6 separate regions of the Homo sapiens genome follow, and all the other regions are reported to be linked to region 1. Evidence: microRNA targets listed by miRTarBase, many of them from high-throughput screens and not tested one by one. Region 1 holds a microRNA gene; each other region holds the end of a gene's coding sequence.
What was found. The annotated mature microRNA hsa-let-7f-5p reads UGAGGUAGUAGAUUGUAUAGUU and lies in region 1 at 2,826-2,847, opposite strand. An mRNA with a match to its seed (bases 2 to 7 or 8) in the 3' UTR can be bound and repressed. Matches are read on the target gene's strand: a 7mer-m8 pairs with bases 2 to 8, a 7mer-A1 pairs with bases 2 to 7 and ends in A, and an 8mer does both.

Region 2: miRTarBase lists UBAP2 as a target of hsa-let-7f-5p. The part of its 3' UTR that is shown has no 7-base or 8-base seed match.
Region 3: the mRNA of UBAP2L is a reported target of hsa-let-7f-5p. The part of its 3' UTR that is shown has no 7-base or 8-base seed match.
Region 4: the mRNA of KIAA0930 is a reported target of hsa-let-7f-5p. Seed matches in the 3' UTR shown: 7mer-A1 at 874-880 and 8mer at 1,691-1,698.
Region 5: the mRNA of CCNB2 is a reported target of hsa-let-7f-5p. The part of its 3' UTR that is shown has no 7-base or 8-base seed match.
Region 6: the mRNA of SLC20A1 is a reported target of hsa-let-7f-5p. Seed matches in the 3' UTR shown: 7mer-m8 at 1,072-1,078.

What each region holds. Positions count from the first base shown.
Region 1 is chrX:53,554,421-53,558,420 of GRCh38, forward strand. MIRLET7F2 (microRNA let-7f-2) reads right to left here and starts at 2,854; the gene lies at 2,772-2,854. It overlaps HUWE1 (HECT, UBA and WWE domain containing E3 ubiquitin protein ligase 1), which reads right to left. Exons shown (of 84, transcript NM_031407.7): 60 at 2,962-3,007; 61 at 213-500. It overlaps MIR98 (microRNA 98), which reads right to left and starts at 1,921; the gene lies at 1,803-1,921.
Region 2 is chr9:33,919,059-33,923,190 of GRCh38, reverse strand. It overlaps UBAP2 (ubiquitin associated protein 2), which reads left to right. Exons shown (of 29, transcript NM_001370062.2): 26 at 1-5; 27 at 158-225; 28 at 313-504; 29 at 592-1,498. The coding sequence ends at 687. It overlaps UBE2R2 (ubiquitin conjugating enzyme E2 R2), which reads right to left. Exons shown (of 5, transcript NM_017811.4): 5 at 2,792-4,132. Among named protein-coding and RNA genes, the nearest start is that of SNORD121B, 13 kb to the left of the region's middle.
Region 3 is chr1:154,269,571-154,273,702 of GRCh38, forward strand. It overlaps UBAP2L (ubiquitin associated protein 2 like), which reads left to right. Exons shown (of 27, transcript NM_014847.4): 27 at 630-1,277. The coding sequence ends at 725. It overlaps HAX1 (HCLS1 associated protein X-1), which reads left to right and starts at 3,059. Exons shown (of 7, transcript NM_006118.4): 1 at 3,059-3,206; 2 at 3,766-4,028. The coding sequence starts at 3,154. RefSeq lists a silencer at 2,675-2,815 and an enhancer at 2,953-3,122.
Region 4 is chr22:45,193,475-45,197,474 of GRCh38, reverse strand. It overlaps KIAA0930, which reads left to right. Exons shown (of 10, transcript NM_001009880.2): 10 at 259-4,000. The coding sequence ends at 299. Among named protein-coding and RNA genes, the nearest start is that of MIR1249, 5.5 kb to the left of the region's middle.
Region 5 is chr15:59,124,629-59,128,760 of GRCh38, reverse strand. CCNB2 (cyclin B2) reads right to left here. Exons shown (of 9, transcript NM_004701.4): 9 at 3,716-3,994. The coding sequence ends at 3,884. Among named protein-coding and RNA genes, the nearest start is that of CCNB2, 22 kb to the right of the region's middle.
Region 6 is chr2:112,662,713-112,666,844 of GRCh38, forward strand. SLC20A1 (solute carrier family 20 member 1) reads left to right here. Exons shown (of 11, transcript NM_005415.5): 11 at 152-1,113. The coding sequence ends at 313. Among named protein-coding and RNA genes, the nearest start is that of SLC20A1, 19 kb to the left of the region's middle.

The sequences.
Region 1 (4,000 bases):
GTTGGTATCATCACCAATATCATTAGACATTCAACTATCACCAGTTCAGGACCTCAACTTCACTTAAGAAAGTGAATGCGCAAGACGAGATCTTATTATTTGAGAAGTTGAACTCCTACTATTTCTCTCAAGCAAAAGAGCAAAGAGAAGCTACAAAGACATCCTTTCTTCCCTCTTGTTTCATCCTCCCCAAATGTTGAAATTCTACTCACTTATAGTGGGAGCTGGGGATAACTCCATCTGAGTTGTTTCTGCTTCCCCACTTGGCCTTGTGGGACCCAATTCCTCTGGCTCTACAGGCATCAATAGCTGTGTAGAGCTGCCCCCTTCTCCAGCTGGAGACTGCAGCTCCTGAGGAACCTCTCCCAAAGCTGGTGGGGTTGGGAGTGTTGGTTGCTGTTGTGAGGATTGCAGAGTGCCAAGGGTCTCCTTGGACTCAGATGTAGCTGCATCAGTTGAAGATGGGGTTGTTGGGTAGCTGTCAGGCATAGGCGTCCCATCTTTCTCGGAAAGAACAATAATAGTGGTTAAGGGGCAACCAGCCAATGATGAGGGGAGCCACCCCAATCAGCAAATGTGGCCTGATAAGTATCCCACCCAGCCAGTGATCATCCCCACAACAAAAATACTCCAAGGAACATCTCTGGTCTGGTATACTAAGGATGAAGGTTAAGGCACAGTGCTATCTCTGTCCCAAGAATGCAAGAACTGGAGCTCTGACTCTGTGGATTCTAAGAATAAAATCCTTTCTGTGCCCTGCAGGTGGAAGGGGGAAGATTTCAGGCCATATAGGGTGAGGCTAAATGTCTCTGACCTATAGGTACACAGAAAATCTAACTACCAAAATCCTATTGATCCTCCCACTTCATCTATTTGGAGCAAGAAATGGTCAGAATTTCGTTCAAAACTCTATTTGTTTTTTTTGGAGACAGGGTCTCACTGTTGCCCAGGCTGGAGTGTAGTGGCACAATCATGGCTCACTGCAGCCTTCACCTCCCGGGCTCAGGTGATCTTCCCACCTCAGCCTCCCAAGTAGCTGAGACTATAGGCATGTGCCACCATACCTGACTAATTTTTTGTATATTTAGTAGAGACAGGGTCTTGCCATGTTGCCCAGGCTGGTCTCAAACTCCTAAGCTCTAGCAATCCACCCACCTCGGCCTCCCAAAGTGCTGGGATTACAGGCGTGAGCCACTGCGTCCAGCCCTTCAAAATCTTTTTTTTTTTTTTTTTTTTCCTGAGACAGAGTCTTGCTCTGTTGCCCAGGCTGGAGTGCAGTGGCGTGTTCTCAGCTCACTGAAGCCTCCACTTCCTGGGTTCAAGCAATTCTCCTGCCTCAGCCTCCTGAGTAGCTGGGACCACAGGCGAGTGTCACCAAGCCTGGCTAATTTTTGTATTTTGAGTAGAGGCGGGGTTTCGCCGTGTTGGCCAGGTTGGTCTCGAACTCCTGACCTCAGGTGATCCACCCGCCTCGGCCTCCCAAAAATGCTGGGATTACAGGCATGAACCACTGCGCCTGGCCCAAAATTCTTAAAGTATGCTTTCCATTCCCTTGCACACATTCCTGTTCTATTACTAATAAAATGCAATCATTACACAGTTGAAGAATAGCAAAATGAGTTCATGCCCAAAGGTAAAATAATTATATGCTCCAATTAATGAAAGACAAGTCACTTTATAATGACATCTGCCTCACCCTAAACACCATCTGTCCCCTTCCATGTCTCTTTTCTTCCAGTCCAAATTATCCAAGGAACATCTACAACTTTGTCTGATGGAGGCAACACTGCTAAGACTAAGTGTGAATATGCCACACACCAGGGAAAGTAGTAAGTTGTATAGTTATCTTCTAATTGGGGCCTAATATCCCTACCCCACAACAATACAACTTACTACCTCACCCTGGCATGAGCAGAATCCTCTAATAAGGGCAGCAGGCAAAAGGCCATTTTACATGGTGACAGACTCTTTTAAAGATCTTTTGCTAGATTAAGGGTACCAAGGCATCTACCCTACTTCACTGCTTTAAAAAATATTGTGCAGGCTTTGGTACAATCATTTTCCAACTCAAGTGCGAAAGGAGACAGGTGTAGGGAGGCAGAAGAATGTTCTGAGGAAATATGGGTGGGGGAGACATATGATATCACATGAACCAACTGATAGAATCACAAAATGGCTACTGACCATTGTTAAGAAGATCAGAGGGAATAGGAAACATACGGCAGTCATACCACTAAGCCCAGAGAGCTACCTTCATGAACAGCACACTATCCAAGACAATGTTCCTAGACTTTTAGATTCCATGGACCAATAAAATTTAATTAAAAAAAGAACAAAAAGTAGAGACTAATGTAGGGGTTGCCAACTTTTAGTTTAGCCATGTAAGAAAAAACATCCAATCAACATCATTTAATAAAAATATTTTGGTACCACAGAATTAGGAATATGATCTCTAAATACAAAAACAGCCTTTTAAATGGAATAAATTCAGCTTTATGAAAAAGGCATTAAAGCTCCTTGATTTTGTTCGTTTCCACAGAGGACTGGCATTTGAGAACCACTGTCATCAGTTATTCTCATGAAGTGCCACACCATGGTGGTCATCAAAGGACCAGCCACTTCAAAGATGTACATGAACATGCTGTTTCAGAGGACAGAGTTGCAGTCAGGAAATGAACAAGACACATGACCTCATTACCCATGCCAGAACAAAGTAGATAATAACCAGAACAAGAACCTGAACAGAGCCAGTCGGAGAAGAAGTGTACCACCGTGGGAAAGACAGTAGACTGTATAGTTATCTCCAAGATGGGGTATGACCCTAAAACTATACAATCTACTACCTCATCCCACAGAGCACCAGTGTCCATCTTCAGCCTATGTGGGCCAGCTACTCGGAACTATCAGGATAAAGAAGCAACCAATTGATTAGTAAGAAGGGAGAAAGGGAAGGAGAGTTACCTGAGAGATTCTGTTCAGTGGAGTCATTTGACTTAGATGCAGTACACTGCAAAAAGAAGGGATAGACCAATGTGGGACTTTGCAAGCACCTAAGATAGAGGTCAACTGTAATAGTCACCATCCTCCACCCAGACCATCTAGGAGTTCAGTGATCTAATGGAGAATGCTTTGGCCATGTGACCAAAGGAAGGTGATCATTTCACTGTGCAAATATATGACCAATTTCTCTATACATACTCAGGTTCAAGAATTGTTTGGGGCTGAGGGGGAAATAAATATGGAAGGAAAGGATAATAAAAACCCCTTAGGGATGGGCACGATCATGATCATTCTAGCAAGAATTTCTTGGTTTCATCTATGTATTTTTTCCCTTCATGGGGCTTATTTTTTATTTTGTCCACTCTAGTCTTTTCAGTCACAGGCTAGGTTCACTTATTTTTCATCCTATATCAAGTTTGAAACAATGTGTGTATTAGGTAAAAAGTTCTATATAAAGATATTTGTTAGATCAACCTTGTTATTTTAACTGAACACTTCACTACCCTTATTTTTAATCTACCTGATTCCTTAACTGCTGAGTAGGGTATACTAAAGTCTTTCACTCTCAAGTCTTATTTCTTTGTATTTCTATCAGTTTTTCCCCCTTTTATATCAAGTGATACACTGTAATGTATAATTCTATCAACATTTACTCAGACATTTAAAAGATCTCTGTCTGAGGTCCCAGAAGTTTCAGAAAAAAGTAGGTAACTTCCTTCTAAACCAAAATTGTATTAGTGATTTTATACATGTGAGCCCTAGAAAAAATGACATGTGGTGATGGGGTTCAGAGTACAAACATTTTCTCTGATCTGACACCTAGGCTGATCTTACTCAAATGACGGAATGGGGTCATCTCGGTAAGATTCCCCACACTGGCAGTTCACCGACAGAAATGGAAGTGGGCGACTAAGAGCATGGACTTAGATAAGGTTTTTCTCCTTGTCTTGATGCTGTCCTTGGCGGTAGAGACTATGCAGTGTGACTGTTGAGTGAGAAG
Region 2 (4,132 bases), not on the chromosome of region 1:
CAAAGGTAGTGTTTACCTCTCCTTTCCAGGATAAGGCCTGGAGTGGTGGGCTCCTGCCTGATCCCCTCTCAGGCAGGGCAACCCCTGAGTGATCCTGGAGGTGGGGAGCCTGGAGCTGGGAACAACTGCTGTGGGGAACAACTGCTTTTCCTCCTAGGAGTATCAGTGTCTTCAAGCACCACTGGTCTACCTGATATGACTGGTTCTGTCTACAATAAGACACAGGTGAGGGACAAAGGTGGGTTGGGTGTATAGGTTTTTGAGAGGTTACAGCCCAACCTGACCTTCACCATTGTCTTCTTTGCCCTGTAGACTTTTGACAAGCAGGGATTTCATGCAGGGACGCCTCCACCTTTCAGCCTGCCCTCGGTCTTGGGCTCCACTGGGCCCCTGGCCTCGGGAGCGGCCCCTGGCTATGCACCCCCACCATTCCTACACATCTTGCCAGCCCACCAGCAGCCCCACTCACAGCTGCTGCACCACCACCTTCCGCAGGATGCACAGGTGAGTACAGTGATGGAGGCAGCCACCCTACTCTGGGCCAGGGGTTCTGCTCCAGCCTTGACAGCCTTCCCTTCTCCTCTTCCTCAGAGTGGCTCGGGTCAGCGCAGCCAGCCCAGCTCCCTGCAGCCCAAGTCTCAAGCCTCCAAACCTGCCTACGGCAACTCTCCATACTGGACAAACTAAACCCAGAAGAGAGGGGTGGGCTGGGGCAAGGCTTATCCTGGGCAGGAGAGAACACACGAGCACGTATTTGGGAGCCCAGTGCCCTTTCCTAGAATTCCCGACATGTGTCAGCCATGCCTCTGTGGGGAGTCTGCCTCCCAGACTGGCTACTGTATGTAATGTATTTATGTATGTATTTGTAAATGTGATAGAAGTCTGGGGGGGAGTTGGGGGATGGCGGCAGATGTTAGCCAGGTCTGCCCTCCCCATTCAAGCCCCTTCTCCACTGTAGCAAAATAAGCACCCCCACCCCATCTGCCTTCAGGTCTTCTTCACAGCCTGCACTGCCCAGTGGGCCACTAGGGGCAGTCTCTGGAAGGGCTGGTTCAAGGCTGTTTGGGTATAGGGGTCAGGTACCAATGAAGAATCACGACTTGTCTCACTCCTTTGGAAATTGTTTTCTTTCCTGTGTAATTACTTCATACCTCTGTTTTTGAGAAACTGTTCCGTTTGTCATCTGTCATGGTCTCCTTCCACCAAATCTTCATCTGGGAATAGCAGCGGTATCCCTCCACCCAAGTATGGCCACCTGTTTGTCTTCATATAGAACAGGGGCTTCTGGTCTGGTCATGTCCCTAGAGACTTACTAGAGACTGGCTGACCATGAAAAAAAAAAAAATAATCTGAGTTATTCAGCCAGTCAGCTCCCCTTTAAAAATCTAAGGTATCTCCAAGCAACACATCTCCATTCTAGTTGTCTTGAACCACGTGGGCAACTGTTTCAGGGGTTTTCTCTTGCCCAATCCCCACCTAATAAAGTTCTGAGAGCATGCATGGTCTCTGTGTGGTGTGACTGAAGGGCAGCTCAGGGCAGAAGCCCTGGACTTCACAGGGCTAAAGGAGATCCCACATGGTCATAGTCTTCTGACACAGGCTATAAAGGCTTGAAATGGTTTTCCTTTTTACTGGACCCTCTTGGCCCAAATCACAATGGCTGTAAGGACAGCTAAACCTCCTTACAGGGCCCAGGCCATGTTGATCAAAGTTAACCTGGCTTTTCTTATAGCTCCTTAAGAGACTTAGGGATAGGGCAGTGTCCCACAGAGCCCTGTCCACTGGATACCAGGGCAGGGTAATTTCTTTTCCAAATCTCAGTGGACTTTTACAATCTGAAGCAAAGCCAAGAACTGAGAGCAGGGTTCTAGGCCTTAAGGGAGAGTATGAACAGGTATACCTGTCTTTTGCTTGTCATCAACTGAACATAATCTTGATTGGCAGTCAAAAGCTATGGTAGAACACGTGACTAGTGAGGGTGTCATGAGGTAGGCTGGTGGATCCGGGGCTACATATCTGCTCCAGAAAAGCCCAACCAACCATTCACCTTGTGTCAGGTCAGAAGCCAGGGAGTAACCAAGGGCCATAGGAAGGAGGCAGATCTCCTGTTGGCCAACCACAACTGTGCTCCAATCCAGCAGGCAGGAAGCTCAGGGCCTAGAAGTGTTGCCCAAGGTGCTACAGCCTCTCTTTTCACTCCTAAATCGCTGCTTCAGATCAGGTTAAAGGAGGAAATAAAATGGCTAGTCAGGTGATTGATTGATTGATTGTGTCAGAACCAGCCTGGGGTCACAATCTACTTTTTCTGCTTTTGGCCTCTACAATTGAGAGCGATGGTCCTGTCATCAGATGGGACCGATACTCCTATTAACCCACAGCTTGGGACCTTACCTAGAAAAAAGGTAAGTGTCTACAGGTAAAATTAGGACTTTTATTAAATAGGGTGATCTGCCTGATCCCTGCTATTAGCAGCAGTAAGTTAGGAAAACAAATGACAGTGAAAATGTTTGCCTAAGGAAAGCAGCAGAGCACCCCTCAATCCTTCACTGACCTACTTGTATCAGCTCCCGTTTTCAGAATCAAGTTTAACAAATGGCTACGTCTATAAGGAGCTTGAAGGGACTGGGGATACACCAGGGAGGTGAGTTAGTTAGAAAGGCAGATTCCCCAGTTTTGGTTTTTGTCTAATTTTTCAGCTGAGCCCCAGCGTAATCTGCAAACTTAACAGTGATAATGAGACCACCTTTTAGTTTTCTTTAACACAAGGTAAAAAAAGAAGAGGGTCATTTCATGGGGAAGTAGCAATACAGGTATTTTATTTCACATTTTATTAGTAGACAGATGGGCAGAAAAAGACAAAATAAACCACTAAAGGGGAAGTCAACACAAAATCCGTCAGATAATCTTTTCTCATAAGTTAAACTGAAGCAAAACATCTACAATTTCAGCTAAAACTATTAAAGTCAGGTGTGTCCTGCTGGTTTCAGAATAGTTGAAAATTGCATCTGAATCCTTTTAGTTGTAAATGTAAACCTTGTTTGTTTTATCAGGATGGGAGGGGTGGAGAGTTCCTTTCCAGTGGAGAGCTGCACATTTCCCCTTCCAATCAGTTTCTTACAACATGTGCCCCAAACGTAAGGAAACCAGCAAGTAAAGAAGCAATTTGCCAGGGTAAGGGAAAGAAGGTTCTACAAAAAAGTTTGACTAATAGAAAATAACTCTGGAATGATTGATAAAAGGAGAAGGGGGGAAGACTGAAAGAATCAACAGCAGAATCATATACTTCTCCACCCAGCCTCAAAATACACAGAACTGAAGAGCATCTAGTGAGGCCTCAATTAGAACTAAAAGGAATCTAAAAATGCAGGATTTTGAGTTCATGTCACATCAAATAATAAGCAAAACTGTACGTACATGGTTCCGGATTGAGCCTGAGACCTCCACTCCCAGAAGGGGGAAAAAAAATTACAAACTCAAGTATTTTCCACAGGGATGTGTTCTCAGGGACAGAGCTCTGGAACCAGCCTCTGGGTTTCGTTCAGTCAGTCTAAAATACCAGAATGTCCACCTGCTAGCAAGAGACTTACCCAGTCTTCTGGAACTGATTGTACTCATCAGAGGCAAACCCAGCCCTTGACACTTTTAACACCCCAAAGGGCTGAAAGGTACAACCTCCACTTGGCGCTCCGGCTCCCTGAGTCAATGTCTAACAGAGGCCAATAGGGCCTGATGGAACAGCTGTGCAGCAGAGCACCTCCCGCAATGCCAGGGTGCTGGGGCTGCCCTGGGAGTGAGATGCTTTAGCAAAGGGGAATGAAAGGCTTAATTTTAGGGCTCCAAGAGAATAAGACCAAGCTACTGGCTGTAAACTTGCATGGGGGTTTGGGGGCATTTTGGGGGAGGTAAATCAGCACTGTGAGAGGCTTTGGCTCCACAAGATTTGCAGGTTAATCTGGAAGCATTACTTACAAAGTATGGGGAGTAAAAAGGTAGTTCCAACATCTATGAGAGTTTGTAATCAGGTAACTTGACAATGTATTACGAAGCTGCTCTGTTCCATGGATCTGACTAAAATCACTAGATTCTGGGTGCAAGTAGCAACCCTGGCCCTGTGGAGATCACAGATTCTGGG
Region 3 (4,132 bases), not on the chromosome of region 1:
TCCTCCCCTCCCCAACACCCTCTTTATCTTTGTACCCTTCCCCAGCTGTGGAAAACATTCGGTTACCAGAATGGAAAAGATTCTTGGGGCAGCATCTGGAGCCTGAGGCCTCAGACTGCCTCTCATACCTGCCTGAAATGGGCTCACAGATGTGATGTGTGGTAGGGGTGGGGATCTGTGGGGCGATGCAAGTGGCCTCTTGAGAGCTCCATTATAGGTGGCTGGAGCTAGAATAAGGGCTTCCTTCCTCAAAGACAGCTTTCCAAATTGAGGCATTAATGGGGATCAATGGAAATGAAATTGCCTTGTGATCACCCATCTCCAAGAGCAGGGGAGAGAGGGGGTAGTGTGAGAATGTAGAATTGAAAATGAGTAGAACTCACTCACTACCTTGTCTCTAAAGGTATCTTGCCCTCTTCATCTTTTCCCTATTTAAAAGTCAAAAATGCCTTCCTGCTTGTAAGAAAGGGGCTTTAGCAGCTATGCAGACCAAATTTTCTATGGTTCTAATAGTAGTGAGGGGAATGGGAGAGCAAGACAGTTTGCACATCTCCACCTGAAGATGTTACAAATTTGTACCACTAACTAGACACCTTTTTCCTCCTCATGATCCTCCCATTCCCCTGCAGACGGGCAGCGGGCAACGTAGCCAGACCAGCTCCATCCCGCAGAAGCCCCAGACCAACAAGTCTGCCTACAACAGCTACAGCTGGGGGGCCAACTGAGGCCCTGACCCTCTTCTCCCGGTCCCATCTTCTGAGAGGGCTTCTCAGCCTGGAAACTATGGAAACAGCATCAAAGAGAAAGGAATGTGGGGGGTTTCCGCTGCCCCCCACCCCCAGCGGCCCACCCCATGCCTCAGCTTCATGTCTGTCCCATTCCTATACCATCCCCACCCTGTTGTATGTATTATAGGATTTGTATTTTCTCCTTTTTTTTCCCCCTTCCATTCCTTCTCCCCTCTTGCATTCAAGATTATGAAACTTTGCTATGGGCCCTGCACTTCCTTTGCTTCCTCCTGTTCACCCTGGTGGTGTACGGATGAGGCGGGGAGGTGGGACCCCCAAACATATATCAGCCCAACAGCCCTAAGTCTCCTTCTTTATTATTAGGAAAACAACAACAACAACAAACAAAAAAATGGCGTCATGAATATGAACAGCATTGTCAGATGAATTAGTTGAAGTGGTTTTTTTTTTGTTTTTTTTTTTTTTTTGTACTGTGTCCTCAAATTTAATGGATTAATGTGTCTTGTATATATAAAAAGAAAACCTCTACCTTCAGCCTCTGCCTATTCTTGCTCCGTCTAGGACATCCTCAATTTCGTCGATGACCAGCTTGGTGAATAAGTATTACTGTACCAACTGGGCCTCCTCTAGCAGGCCCCTGAAGGCAGTGGAATAAAATGAAATCTTCGCCCTTTAAGAACTCCTGACCTTAATGTGGTAGTAGTATCTTGTCCTTGAGGGGATTTCCTTCCCCTCACCCCTAAGACTTTCACAACCTGGTGACTGGAAAGAACCACCACAAATCTTCATTTCCTCCAGAAACTGCTACATCTACAGCCGATTTCAGGCAGTAAAGGGAGAGGGATAGAGGAGATTGGGTGGAAAATGGAGAGGATCAAGAAGGAGCTGAGACCATTTCAAAGAAAAAAAATGCTTTATAGAGTTTTAAGTATGACTTAGATGGGTCCAGGCAAATAAACTAAAAAGAAGTGAAGGCAACATGTATCGTCTGGCAGAACTAAATCTTGGAGTGGGGTGAGGGATGAAAGACTACATATTGGGTACAGTGTACACTGCTCGGGTGATGGGTGCGCTAAAGTCGCAGAAATCACTAAAGAACTCATCCATGTAACCAAACACCACCTGTACCCCAAAAACGAAATAAAAAAACAAAACCTTGGGGCCCATTCCCCCTAGGAATGGACTACTGTAGTAGTGGCTTCTTGGATGCTTCTCTGTGACATAGCTATACCCAATTCTTTGAAAAAGAATCTAGAGCAAGGTCTGGCTTGGGGATGGGGTACAGGGAGAGACAGGTCTCGGAGAGGTTTTGAACAAAACACTTTTAAAAAGGAATGAGGACAGGCGCTTTGGGAGGCTGGGTTGGGCGGATCACCTTAGGTCAGGAGTTCGAGACCAGCCTGGTCAACATGGTGAAACCCCGTTTCTACAAAAAATACAAAAGTAGCCGGGCGTGGAGGCGCATGACTGTAATCCCAGCTACTCGGGAGGCTGAGACAGGAGAGAACCTGGGAGGCGAAGGTTGCAGTGAGCCGACATGGTGCCACTGCACTCCAGCCTGGGAAACATGAGAGAAAACTCTGTCTCAAAAAAAAAAAAAAAAAAAAAAAAAAAAAGATACCAAAGGGATATTTCTTTATAACCCCCAATTTGTTCCTTCTCAGGACTCAACTAGCTTCCCTTCCCTTGCTTTCTTAAAAATCCTTTGTCTTGCTGGTTGCAGAGCCTGCTTAGAAAAAAGAATTCTATATAGTTATAACAAACTCCCTAGTAGCTAGAGAGGTGGAGGAAGTTAAGTCCATGCGTCTCTTATGTCTTGATCTCTTCTCTGGGAAATTCAATACTAGAAGGAGCTTGGAAAAGCATTTTGTTCATCCCTCTAACAGCAGACATCGCCCAGGTCAGTCAAAAAGAACGCCCGAGTAAGGAGCGAGGTGGCTTCTGCTGTGAGGCTGGCCAGCCCCGCGGGTGGGGTGGTTGAGGGACGCCCTCAAGCCGGTCCATTTGTGCGGCTGGGCTGCCCTCTGGCGGCTTTATCCGGGTGCCATCCAGAGTCAAACCCTCGAAATCGCTTTTCGTACTGAGTTGGTCTGCAGAAAGAAGAACAGATTTAGGAGGAAGGCGGTCATAGGAAACTGAAAGTGCGTCACGCCCACTCCCGTCACGGAAACTGGTCTCTGAAAGGTGGGGTAAAGATAAAGCCTTTCAAATTTGAGGAAGACCTTCGGTCCCGCCTCCATTTCACGTCCGGCTTACCGTCGTTTACGACAGTGTCAGGATCGCGGGCTTGCTTTCCGGTAGCGTGGGCTGACGCCTCGCTCAATTTCTCACAGGGCTGCGCAGGTTTCCCCCGTCTGCGAATGGACCACTGGAGGGGTTCAAAGGTTCGCGTCCCAGTACGGGAATGAGCCTCTTTGATCTCTTCCGGGGCTTTTTCGGCTTTCCTGGACCTCGGAGGTGAGAGTAGGTCCGGCTCGGACAAGGGTGGGGGTCGTCTGAGGGGAGCTTGACCCCTACGTCTTATTTTTGGAAAAACATCCTCTGTCCCACTCCTTCAACTCCTGCAGAGAGGACAGAAGTCGCAACATTGAACACTCACCCCGCCACAGTAACCAAGGCGGTCATTAAGAGGAGAAACAGCAAACTAAGCCTTTCTCCAACCTGGGGTGATGCAACAGGGACCCGGGCGGGGAAGACCGTGAGGGTCTGGGGAATAAGACAGTGAGCAAGTGAGCAGGACCTTGGGAGAGAGAGGAGGGACTGGGGCACACTGAAGAAAAACTGGGGGAAGGTGTATGAAGGGAGCTGCGAGCTGAGGTCTGACTTTGATTAAAAAAAAAAAAAAAAAAAAAGAACTGTCAGCCATTGTATTAATGTTTTGATGTGGCAGCCAGTCCTCCGACCCTCTCCCTAGCTTCCCAGACCCCTTGCTCTTGTCCCACTTTGCCACCCATGAGTTGATTTAATGGCTTAAATAGTGCTGAAATATTGGTGGCCAATCTGCCTCCACTCTCAGCCACAGAGATCCCTTTTTTGGAGGGATGACTCGAGATGAAGATGATGATGAGGAAGAAGAAGAAGAAGGGGGCTCATGGGGCCGTGGGAACCCAAGGTTCCATAGTCCTCAGCACCCCCCTGAGGAATTTGGCTTCGGCTTCAGCTTCAGCCCAGGAGGAGGGATACGTTTCCACGATAACTTCGGCTTTGATGACCTAGTACGAGATTTCAATAGCATCTTCAGCGATATGGGGGCCTGGACCTTGCCTTCCCATCCTCCTGGTGTGTGGCTTTCCCTAAGGGGCAACCTGTGGTTTCTGGTGGGTTGGTGGGTGAAATAAAGAGCCTGCAGGGAGTAGCTGGGGGATGGGAAGTGTGAGAAGACT
Region 4 (4,000 bases), not on the chromosome of region 1:
GCTGTGACAGGCAGTGGCTCTGGCCCCCACACCAGCTTGCACCTGAGGCCCTGCAGGGTGTGCCGTTGCTGCGAGCCCATTTCCCAGTCTGCAGGGTGAGGATGGTGGAGACACGTCTCCTCTGCAGTCTGTGAGGCCTGGAGAGGAGATGCATGAGTGGCTGAGGCGGGCTTCCTTCAGAAGTGGCACTGCCGTGACCATAGCACTCACCGCTGTTGAGGGTTACTGTTTCACCTGCTTCCCTCCTGCCGGCCCTAGACATCCTGGAAGTTCGGCAGAAGCCCATCCTGATGACCTAGCCGCGTGCGGAGCCTGCGCAGAGCCCCGGCCGGGCCCAGCCCTCGGAGTGCTGCCAAGTGCCTACCTGTCCACCGCCACCGGGGTCTGCGATGGCACGCCAGTGCTGGAGCCGCAGCCAGGCGAGGCCACTCGACTCCCGGGGCCGGGGCCGACTCCACGAACACCAGCCCAAACTGAAGTGCCTCTTCCCTCCCCTGCTGGCGCTGCTCCGCCCTGTGCCCCCCGCCCATCGCCCCCCACCCATCTCTGGAGAGCCCTCTGCACCCAAAGAGGACTAGAGATGCCGAGCGGCCATGAGAGAGAGCGGAAGGAGCAGCTGATGCCCAGAGCGGGGCCAGAGCGGCGGGTCTATGTTCACGTCCCCCCAGCAGCAGGCGGAACCACCCAGCCAGGGCACTCAGTGCATTGGACTGTCCACATGTTCTTGAGGAAAGCCGGTGGAAGATTCTGGAATGCCGTGCGGATGAACTTCAGCACCCGAGTCAGTCCCAGCTCATCCTCCCCAGTTTACCACTTTGTTCTAATAGGAGATGGGAACACGAGAAGTTTGATGGCTTTGCCCTGGGCTGGGAATACCTCACCCACGCCCAGTTCCAGAAAGGCCTCCAGCTGAGCAGACGGCCCCGATCCCGCCAGAACGGCCTTTTGCTTCCAGCCAAAGAACACCGCCAACACGCACACCTCCAACCTGGGACATCCCACGCTGGGCCTCGCACGGAGGAACCTGCAGAATTTGGATTCTGAGGGTAGTCGGGAGGCCTCGGTAGCCAGGCAGAACAGGATATCTGCCAAAGGGTGTCTGATGTGGGGTGGGGCTGGCATCCTCCCAGGAAGGTTCTAGGTGGGACCCCGTCTTCTGGGGGCGGGGGTGTCTTTTCATCTTCCCTGGTTTCCTAGAACTCACTTCCTTTGACGGCGTGTGTTGGTCCCATCTCTCAGACCAGCTCACTGAGGCAGAGGAGTTGCTCAGAGGCTCACATGGGCACCCCCATTGGTTCGTGTGAGCAGCTGCCCAGCCCCAGGCCTGCCCTCGGCCTGGTCCAGCATGAAGGCGTTTCCATCTGCAAGGATGCACGGTACCCTCCCCGAGAGCAGGCCTGTCCCCTACCCAACTGGGAATAAACTGGAAGCTGGGTCTCTTTGTTGCTATGTTTTTTTGTTTGAAGTTCCCAGGAATATTTGAGGGGTTCCGGTGATGTGTTTAGGGATCTTCTCTGTGGGGGAAAAGGAAGAGGAGGGTCTTGTTCTCCCATCTGTTTATTCTTTGGGCTCTGGGAACAGGGGACTACTTTGGGGCTTTCTCCAGACTTTTGTATGTTGTTATTAAAAGCGAGCTATTGCATTTCATTCTGCCTCAGTTTGCCCACCTGTGAAATGGGGCTGATACCACCTACCTCACTGAAGTCCCAGGGTTCAAGTGTGTGGCTGGGTCAGGGCGTGGTCACCCGTCATTCTGCATAGGTCGGGTTGGATGTTAGACTCCTGGGATGCCCTCCTCCCCCTCGCCCTTTGTAATAACCTAATCTGAGACCGTGCTTGGTGGGGGGATGTGAACTTTCTCTCTCCCCCAGCAGTGTCTGCTCAGGCCTGACAGCTCAGCTCTGCACGATTTCATGTTCCTAAACCCATGTCTTAGGGCAGCACAGAGCCAGGTCATGTCATGCCCCAAAGTGTGGGGACAGAGCCTCAGGGAGCCCCGAGCATGGTCCAGCCCCATTTGAGTGCTCTCCGGGGATGCCAAATGCTGCTTCCAAGTTTGAGTCCATGTGGCTAAAATACACCCATTTCTTCAGGAACTCTTCCCCTGGTTGTTCTGGGGATCTTGGGAGAAACACAGCCCTGACAGCTCGTCCGTGGGAAGATGAGGCAGTCCAGGTTGTGAGGAGCACAGCGGCCCGCCCTCTGTTCTCAGAGGTGAGGGGCGGGAGAAGGTTGTCTCCTCTGGGGCCAGCATTTGGCCAAGCTCGGAGGCTTGGCCAGCACTGCTGGATGGCTCAGAGCAAGCTGGGCTCCCCGTCTGTAAGATGGCAAAAATGCTGCCCCCCTCACAGGGTGACCATGAGGACCAGTCACAGTGATGTGTGAAAGGGCTCGCTGGTCACAGAAACGTGTACAAATCATGCTATTTTAGAGATCAGCCCTCAATTTGTAAGGCATGTGAACAGGGCACGCGGTGGGCTGGTGGTTTCATAGCCGACACACAGCGCCTACCATGTGCAGCTGCCTGTCCGACCCCATCTTACAGACGAGAAAACCAGCACACAGGCACCAAGGAACTGTCCGGAACTAACAGCAGGGGCCGGCGATGGGAGTCAAACCCAGGCACGCGGCCTGGCCTGCATGCTGAGCCACATGGTGCTGTCCGGACAGATGGACAGACACTCGGTGGAGTCTGCCTTTCTCAGGCCCTAAATCCCTCTCCAAAGGGTACTTGCGATGCCGGATTTAAAACTTGCTCAGAGCCACTTAGCCACTTGAGAACCAGACAGTAAGGTGTTACTCCCAGGTTTGTTTTTCCAAAGTAACAGATGACATGTGGAATAAAGTAATAGAGTAACAAGTGGCAGGGCCAGAACCAGGGTCCCCAAAGTCCTGGTGTTGGCACATTTGTACTTCTTGTAAGACCATCTTTAATTTTTCTGGGAACACACCTGCCTTTTGTGTAATGCGGGGAAGACTAATGCATGGTGACACCTAGTTTTCCTCAACAGGACACTTGATCCCAAAACCCCTTTAAGACCTTAGGTTTCCTCAGCGGAAAACTGTACTTTAATCCCAAACCCCCTTTAAGACATATTGGGGCTGGGCGCAGTGGCTCACGCCTGTAATCCCAGCACTTTGGGAGGCTGAGATGGGTGGATCACCTGAGATCAGGAGTTCAAGACCAGCCTGACTAACATGCTGAAACCCCATGTCTACTAAAGATAGAAAAATTAGCTGGACATGGTGGCAGGCACCTGTAATCCCAGCTACTCGGAAGGCTGAGGAAGGAGAATCACTTGAACCTAGTAGGCAGAGGTTGCAGTGAGCCGAGATCACGCCATTGCATTCTAGCCTGGGCAACGAGAGCGAAACTCTGTCTCAAAAAAAAAAAAAAAAAAAAAAAAAAAAAAAAAAAAAAAGATACATTGGTCTTTAAACCCAAACCCCCTTTAAGGCATGTTGGTCTCAAGGGGATTTGGGATTGAAGCACAGCTTTCTGTTGAGGAAACCTAGGTGTCACTTTTTAGAACATTAAAAAGAAAGTTGTAGGGTGGGCTTTTCCATTTAAAGGAATGTGATGATCCTAGGTTCTGATGAGTGATAGGTGGTCTCCGTTTATACCCTTTCTTCTTTTGGCACCTGTAAGTTCCGGTAGTGGCCATCTTACATTCTCATGTCCTGCTGGAAGTGCCTAGTTGCCTGCAAAGCCAGCTAAGGCTTATTATTTCAAAAGAAGATTATTTAAAACATGAGTGACAGGTAGTCAGAAGAGAACAAAAGGACGCAAGATACTCTATAGCCAAGTCAGCTTGGAGGCAGGATGGGTTGCTGAGTGAAGTCGCCGCTCACTTTTGGATTCTTATGGACTGTGAGTTAGTCTTCCCTCTACACGGAGTCACAGGAAGGGTATAAATGCATGTTCCTGAGGTGCCCTCCCCCAAAGAATGTACCTGCACTCAAACCAGGATCTGTTTTTGCTGTTTTAATCATAAATAGA
Region 5 (4,132 bases), not on the chromosome of region 1:
ACCAATGAGAACAAAGACACAAGGCACCAGAATCTCTGGGACACATTTAAAGCAGTGTGTAGAGGGAAATTTATAGCACTAAATGCCCACAAGTGAAAGCAGGAATGATCCAAAATCGACACTCTAACATCACAATTAAAAGAACCAGAGAAGCAACAGCAAGCATATTCAAAAGCTAGCAGAAGGCAAGAAATAACTAAGATCGGAGCAGAACTGAAGGAGACAGAGACACAAAAAAACCCTTCAAAAAAAATCAGTGAATCCAGGAGCTGGTTTTTTGAAAAGATCAACAAAATTTCAAAGACCGCTAGCCAGACTAATAAAGAAGAAAAGAGAGAAGAATCAAATAGACACAATAAAAAATGATAAAGGGGATATCACCACCAATCCCACAGTAATGTAAACTACCATCAGAGAATACTATGAACACCTCTACGCAAATAAACTAGAAAATCTAGAAGAAATGGATAAATTCCTGGACACACACACGCTCCCAAGACTAAACCAGGAAGAAGTCGAATCCCTGAATAGACCAATAACAAGTTCTGAAATTGAGGCAGTAATTAATAGCCTACCAACCATAAAAGTCCAGGACCCGACTGATTAGCAGCCAAATTCTACCAGAGGTAAAAAGAGGAGCTGGTACCATTCCTTCTGAAACTATTCCAAACAATAGAAAAAGAGGGAATCCTCCCTCACTCATTTTATGAGGCCAGCATCATCCTAATGCCAAAACCTGGCAGAGACACAACAAAAAAAGAAAATTTTAGGCCAAAATCCCTGATGAACATCGACACAAAAATCGTCAATACAATACTGGCAAACTGAATCCAGCAGCACATCAAAAAGCTTATCCACTGTGATCAAGTCGGCTTCATCCCTGGGATACGAGGCTGGTTCAACATACGCAAATCAATAAACGTAATCCATCACATAAGCAGAACCAGTGACAAAAACCACGATTATCTCAATTGATGCAGAAAAGGCCTTTGACAAAATTCAACACTGCTTCATGCTAAAAACTCTCAATAAACTAGGTATTGATGGAACGTATCTCAAAATAATAAGAGCTATTTATGACAAACCCACAGCCAATATCATACTGAATGAGCAGAAACTGGAAGCATTCCCTTTGAAAACTGGCACAAGACAAGGATGCCTTCTCTCACCATTCTTATTCAACACAGTATTGGAACTTCTGGCCAGGCCAATCAGACATGAGAAGGAAATAAAGGGTATTCAATTAGGAAAAGAGGAAGTCAAATTGTCTCTGTTTGCAGATGACGTGATTCTATATTTAGAAAACCCCAGTATCTCAGCCCAAAATCTCCCTAAGCTGATAAGCAACTTCAGCAAAGTCTCAGGATACAAACTCAATGTGCAAAAATCACTAGCATTCCTATACACCAACAACAGACACAGCCAAATCATGAGTGAACTCACATTCACAATGCCTACAAAGAGAACAAAATACCTAGCAATCCAACTTAAAAGGGATGTGAAGGACCTCTTCAAAGAGAACTACAAACCACTGCTCAAGGAAATAACAGAGGACAAAAACAAATGGAAAAACATTCCATGCTCATGGATAGGAAGAATCGATAGCATGAAAATGGCCATACTACCCAAAGTAATTTATAGATTCAATGCTATCTGCATCAAGCTACCACTGACTTTCTTCACACAATTGGAAAAAACTACTTTAAATTTCATATGGAACCAAAAAAGAGGCCGCATAGCCAAGACAATCCTAAGCAAAAAGAACAAAGCTGGAGGCAACATGCTACCTGACTTCAAACTATACTACAAGGCTACAGTAACCAAAACGGCATGGTACTGGTACCAAAACAGATATATAGTCCAATGGAACAGAACAGAGGCCTCAGAAATATCAGCACACATCTACAACCATCTGAACTTTGACAAACCTGACAACAACAAGCAATGGGGAAAGGAATCCCTATTTAATAAATGGTGTTGGGAAAACTGGCTAGCCATATTTAGAAAGCTGAAACGGGATCCCTTATACTGGTATACCTTTTACAAAAATTAACTCAAGATGGATTAAAGACTTAAATGTAAGACCTAAAACCATTAAAACCCTAGAAGAAAACCTAGGCAATACCATTCAGGACATAGACATGGGCAAAGACTTCATAGCTAAATCACCAAAAGCAATGGCAACAAAGCCACAATTGACAAATGGGATTGAATTAAACTAAAGGGTTTCTGCACAGCAAAAGAAACTACCATCAGAGTGAACAGGCAGCCTACAGAATGGGAGAAAATTTTTGCCATCTATCCATCTGACACAGGGCTACTATCCAGAGGCCACAAAGAACTTAAACAAATTTACAAGAAAAAAAAAAAAACATCAAAAAGTAGACAAAGGATATGAACAGATACTTCTCCAAAGAAGACATTTATGCAGTCAACAAACATATGAAAAAATGCTCATCATCACTGGTCATTAGAGAAATGCAAATCCAAACCACAATGAGATACCATCTCATGCCAGTTAGAATGGCGATCATTAAAATGTCAGGGAACAACAGATGCTGGAGAGGATGTGGAGAAATAGGAATACTTTTACACTGTTGGTGCGAGTGTAAATTAGTTCAACCATTGTGGAAGACAGTGTGGTGATTCCTTAAGGATCTAGAACTAGAAATACCATTTGAGCCAGCAATCCCATTACTGGGTATATACCCAAAGAATTATAAATCATTCTACTATAAAGACACATGCACACATATGTTTATTGCGACACTGTTCACAATAGCAAGGACTTGGAACCAGCCCAAATGCCCATCAGTGACAGACTGGATAAAGAAAATGTGGCACATATACACCATGGAATACTATGCAACCATAAAAAAGGATGAATTCATGTCCTCTGCAGGAACACGGATGAAGCTGGAAACCATCATTCTCAGCAAACTAACACAAGAACAGAAAACCAAACGCTTCATGTTCTCACTCATAAATGGGAGTTGAACAATGAGAATACATGGACACATGGAGGGGAAAACCCCTGCCAGGGGCCTGTCACGGGGTGGGGGACTAAGGGAGAGATAGCATTAGGAGAAATACCTAATGTAGATGACAGGGTGATGGGTGCAGCAAACCACCATGGCACATGTATACTTATGTAACAAACCTGCATGTTCTGCACATGTACCCCAGAACTTCAATTAAAAAAAAAAAAAGTTCAATGCCCATTAAAAACCAACCAAACAAAAAAATGCAAAGCCATTTACCCCATAATGTACCTGAAAAAATGCATGCCAAGCTTCACCTTGAACAGGATGCCACGGGCCCATTTTCTCCAGCTGTGACCCATGGGATGGCTCTCTCTGGTCTCAACAATGCATTTGAGAGAGGGACCCATTACAAGGGTTGCTCTGGGCCAGGCGTTCCTATGCAGGAATTAGAGAGCAGCTGACTAGCTTCTAGAAAGGAAAGTGTCATGGTTATCCTCCCATTTAAAATTTTCATAATAAACTTATTTGTATTCAAGAAGCTTAGGAATAGGTTTAGTGTTCACTGAGGCCAAGTTCTAGTTTTTTCCATTTGAGAAAATGGTAAAAAGGTCTTGCCCAAGCCATAATGGCAGTAATTTACATGCTATTCATAACAGCTCAAAAAGAAATTAGTCAAAGCAAGCTTTCACTGATTTCTTAAGTACAGAATACACAAATAAATACACATGGGATACCTTAAGAAAAACCAATCGCTTTATTTTTCCTCAATATATGTTTAGAAAACTGGTCTGAGAAGAGGTTTCATGAGATAGACCAGAGGACTATGTACAAAATCAAGAGTTCTAAACCAATAAGAAAAAGGGCACAATGAAGCACACATCCCCAGGGGCCACGGCAGCCTAGGACCTTCCTATCAGTGGGGAGGCAAGGTCTTTGACGGCTTTTGAGTTCAGCTGAGGGATCATGCTGATCTTCAGGAGTTTGCTGCTTGCATACTTATTCTTGATGGCCTGCAGAAGTCATTTGTGATTAAGCACATGTCAGGAACCCCCAATGATACCTTATTCCTAGTCTAACTCACAATTATCAAAGGTCCACGGCTACAATCATGATCACATTGATGATGCCCAATCGCTGAAGCCAGTGAA
Region 6 (4,132 bases), not on the chromosome of region 1:
TTTCCCAGCTTAACCTGTTGTAAACCAGCTTTCTTGGACTTTGTCTTGTCCAGGGGTCTGGGGCTCCTTGTCCAAACAGTCTCAGGTGTCTGTTTGCCAGAATACCACTGGCACTTCAATAACCTGTTTCCTTGGTCTGCTTCTCTTCTAGGTGGGCTCTGTTGTGTCTGTTGGCTGGCTCCGGTCCAAGAAGGCTGTTGACTGGCGTCTCTTTCGTAACATTTTTATGGCCTGGTTTGTCACAGTCCCCATTTCTGGAGTTATCAGTGCTGCCATCATGGCAATCTTCAGATATGTCATCCTCAGAATGTGAAGCTGTTTGAGATTAAAATTTGTGTCAATGTTTGGGACCATCTTAGGTATTCCTGCTCCCCTGAAGAATGATTACAGTGTTAACAGAAGACTGACAAGAGTCTTTTTATTTGGGAGCCAGAGGAGGGAAGTGTTACTTGTGCTATAACTGCTTTTGTGCTAAATATGAATTGTCTCAAAATTAGCTGTGTAAAATAGCCCGGGTTCCACTGGCTCCTGCTGAGGTCCCCTTTCCTTCTGGGCTGTGAATTCCTGTACATATTTCTCTACTTTTTGTATCAGGCTTCAATTCCATTATGTTTTAATGTTGTCTCTGAAGATGACTTGTGATTTTTTTTTCTTTTTTTTAAACCATGAAGAGCCGTTTGACAGAGCATGCTCTGCGTTGTTGGTTTCACCAGCTTCTGCCCTCACATGCACAGGGATTTAACAACAAAAATATAACTACAACTTCCCTTGTAGTCTCTTATATAAGTAGAGTCCTTGGTACTCTGCCCTCCTGTCAGTAGTGGCAGGATCTATTGGCATATTCGGGAGCTTCTTAGAGGGATGAGGTTCTTTGAACACAGTGAAAATTTAAATTAGTAACTTTTTTGCAAGCAGTTTATTGACTGTTATTGCTAAGAAGAAGTAAGAAAGAAAAAGCCTGTTGGCAATCTTGGTTATTTCTTTAAGATTTCTGGCAGTGTGGGATGGATGAATGAAGTGGAATGTGAACTTTGGGCAAGTTAAGTGGGACAGCCTTCCATGTTCATTTGTCTACCTCTTAACTGAATAAAAAAGCCTACAGTTTTTAGAAAATTTGTTCTCATGGTTTTCTTTCATACTCGAATCACCTGGGCTCCTGATCAGTTAGCCTAATATCATTCTTAGGTGATGTGAATATCTTAACAAGTGAGAGCTACTGTCCAACTTAAAGCTCCCAACCCCTCCCTGTATGCTTCTTGTGTGCCCAGAATATGCAAGACATTACTCCATAGGGACTGTGGTGGCAACTTGGCATTTTCCCTTTTAGTAGCACAGCCTGTACACTTTCATGTTAGCACACGGGTGTTTTTTTTGTTTTGTTTTTCCAGTTTTTTCTTTTGATACTTTTTGTTTTTTTTTTTGAGACGGAGTCTCGCTGTGTCACCAGGCTGGAGTGCAGTGGTGTGATCTCGGCTCACTGCAACCTCCACCTCCTGGGTTCAAGCAATTCTCCTGCCTCAGCCTCCTGAGTAGCTGGGACTACAGGCGCCCACCACCACATCTGGCTAATTTTTAGTAGAGACAAGCTTTCAGCATGTTGGCCAGGCTGGTCTCAAACTCCTGACCTCAAGTGATCCGCCTGTGTTGGCCTCCCAAAGTGCTGGGATTATAGCCATGAGCCACTGCGTCTGGCCTACTCATGGTTTTTCACAGCCAAAGATTTACTGTTGAATGGACAGCTTTATTTTACTATTTTATGTAGATTGTTTTTAGCTTTGGTATTACGGTAAACCCTTGAACAGTGTGGAGGTTGGACACCAACCCCCATGCAGTCAAAAAACCATGTATAACTTTTGACTCCAAAAACTTGACTACCAGTAGCCTACGGTTGACCAGAAGCTTTAGCAATAACATAAACAGTTGTGAACACATATTTTACGTGTTATATGTATGTATTATATACTGTACTACGATAATGTAAGCTAGAGAAAAGGAAATAAAACCATAAGGAAGATACATTTACTATTCATTAAGTGGAAATGGATCATAAAGGTTTTCATCCTTGTCATCTTGAGTTGACTGAGGAGGAAAGGAGGAGTTGGTCTTGCTGTCTCAGGGATGGCAGAGGTGAAAGTAAGTCTGTGTATAAGTGGATTCTGCAGTTCAGACTAGTGTTCAAAGGACATCAGTACAAGGAAAGCAAAAATGAGTGGGAGGCAATGTGTAGCTAAGTTTTGTTTAAAAGTTCTCAGTATGGGATTCTTCAGTTCTGACCCATTATATTTTTGCCCCTGATCAGAAGTTAATGAAAAGTACATTTCTTGGCAAACTAGATTGATAGTTCCTGTCCTGAGGGTTTGGAACAATACTTTTGAATTTTGAGTTTATTTGGAGCGTTTCACTAGAAACCAACACTAAGAATCGAACAGGGTAAGGCAGTGCCTAGTCTAACCTGTGCCTGCAAGGTTAGGCCACTGGCTGGGTACATGCCGTTGCATCCTGCTGTCAGTTTAATGGTCTTGCAGAAGACTACATTTAATCCTCATGGCCTTTTGTGGTAGATCTTATCCTGATTTTGTACATGATGAAACTGGCGTGGAGAACATCTGTATTTGCCCAGTATTGTCAGTTAGCAGAGGGTGCCCGTTACTTGTAGCCTTTGGGGCTGGGTGAAACTAGCTTTATGACTTGTTACTTGAGGGAAGGGAGGGTAGGGGGCTGTTGTAAAGGGCGACCGAGCATTAGGCCTTGAACTGAGGGTCTGGGAGGAGACCCTCAGAGTTCTGGCACTGCCTTCCCTTCGTGCTGAATGACCTCACAAAAGCCCAGATCCTTTCAGAGCCCAGTGATTACATGGAGAAGAGGAACCTCCCTGGCACTTTCACTTGGCTCAGGACAGAACAGCTGAGAAAATACTTAGACCAAGCTTGTCCAGCTACAGACAATTTTTCCAGTGTGGCCCAGGGAAGTGAAAAGATTGAACACACCAAGGATGTGTTTCTGTAGGCAGAGCAGGTAGACCTGGGGAGAGGAGCCTCTAGAGCTAGGGAAGGGACCAGAGGAGCGGTTATATTTCTACTTTAGTTGTCTGCCATGGGGCAGGGACACATGGTGAGAACCCTGGCCCCCCCCTTTTTTTTCGGCATAGATATTGCCTTTTCTTTTTTTGAGACAGAGTTTCGCTCTTGTCACCCAGTTGGAGTGCAATGGCGCGATGTCGGCTCACTGCAATCTCTGCCTCCCAGGGTTCAAGCGATTTTCCTGCCTCAACCTCCTGAGTAGCTGGGATTACAGGCTTGCGCCACCACGCCCGACTAATTTTTGTATTTTTAGTAGAGACAGAGTTTCACCACGTTGGCCGGGCTGGTCTCAAACTCCTGACCTTAGGTGATCCACCCACCTCAGCCTCCCAAAGTGCTGGGATTACAGGCGTGAGCCACCACGGCTCAGCTGACATTGCCTTTTCTTAACTAAAAGTTTTTTGAAAATCAAGGTTGGGCAAATTGAAGAGCCAGCTGGTCCAACAAGGCTTGTTAACAAAAACAGGTCTGCCAACATTTCCCTTTCCTGAGGCAACCACTTTCAATTCTTTTGGTATTTGTCTCTTTATATCTAAATAATATACTTGTGTTACTATTTCCCTCTCGCATTTTTTGGCTGAGTGCGGGTGACACTTCTGGGACTACTGGGCCTTTGTCTTGGGTAGGAGTTCTCCACCAGGGGTGACTTTTGCTGTCCCCAGTCCCCATTTGTGACTCTCCCTTGTCCCATTTATGGTAGTAATATTTGGAGACATTTTTGGTTGTCACAATTGGGGGATGGTACTGACCAGAGATGCTGCTGTAAGCGTCCTACAGTACACAGGGCAACTCCACAACAGAAAATACCTGGGCTGAAATGTCAGTAGTGCTGAGGTTGCAGAACCCTGACATAGGGTGATCTGGTTGGGCTCTTTCCTTGGAGGAACCCCAGAAAAGCTTCAGAAGGCTAAAAGCCTAACTAATGAACGTTCTAGGACTCAGAGGGGGAAGTGGTCACCACATATTTTAACCTCACTGTTTTCAGCCTAGACAGCCCATCCTTAGGGTGGCTTCAATAGGCACCGGTTTAGTTACCGCAGTTTAGGTAAATA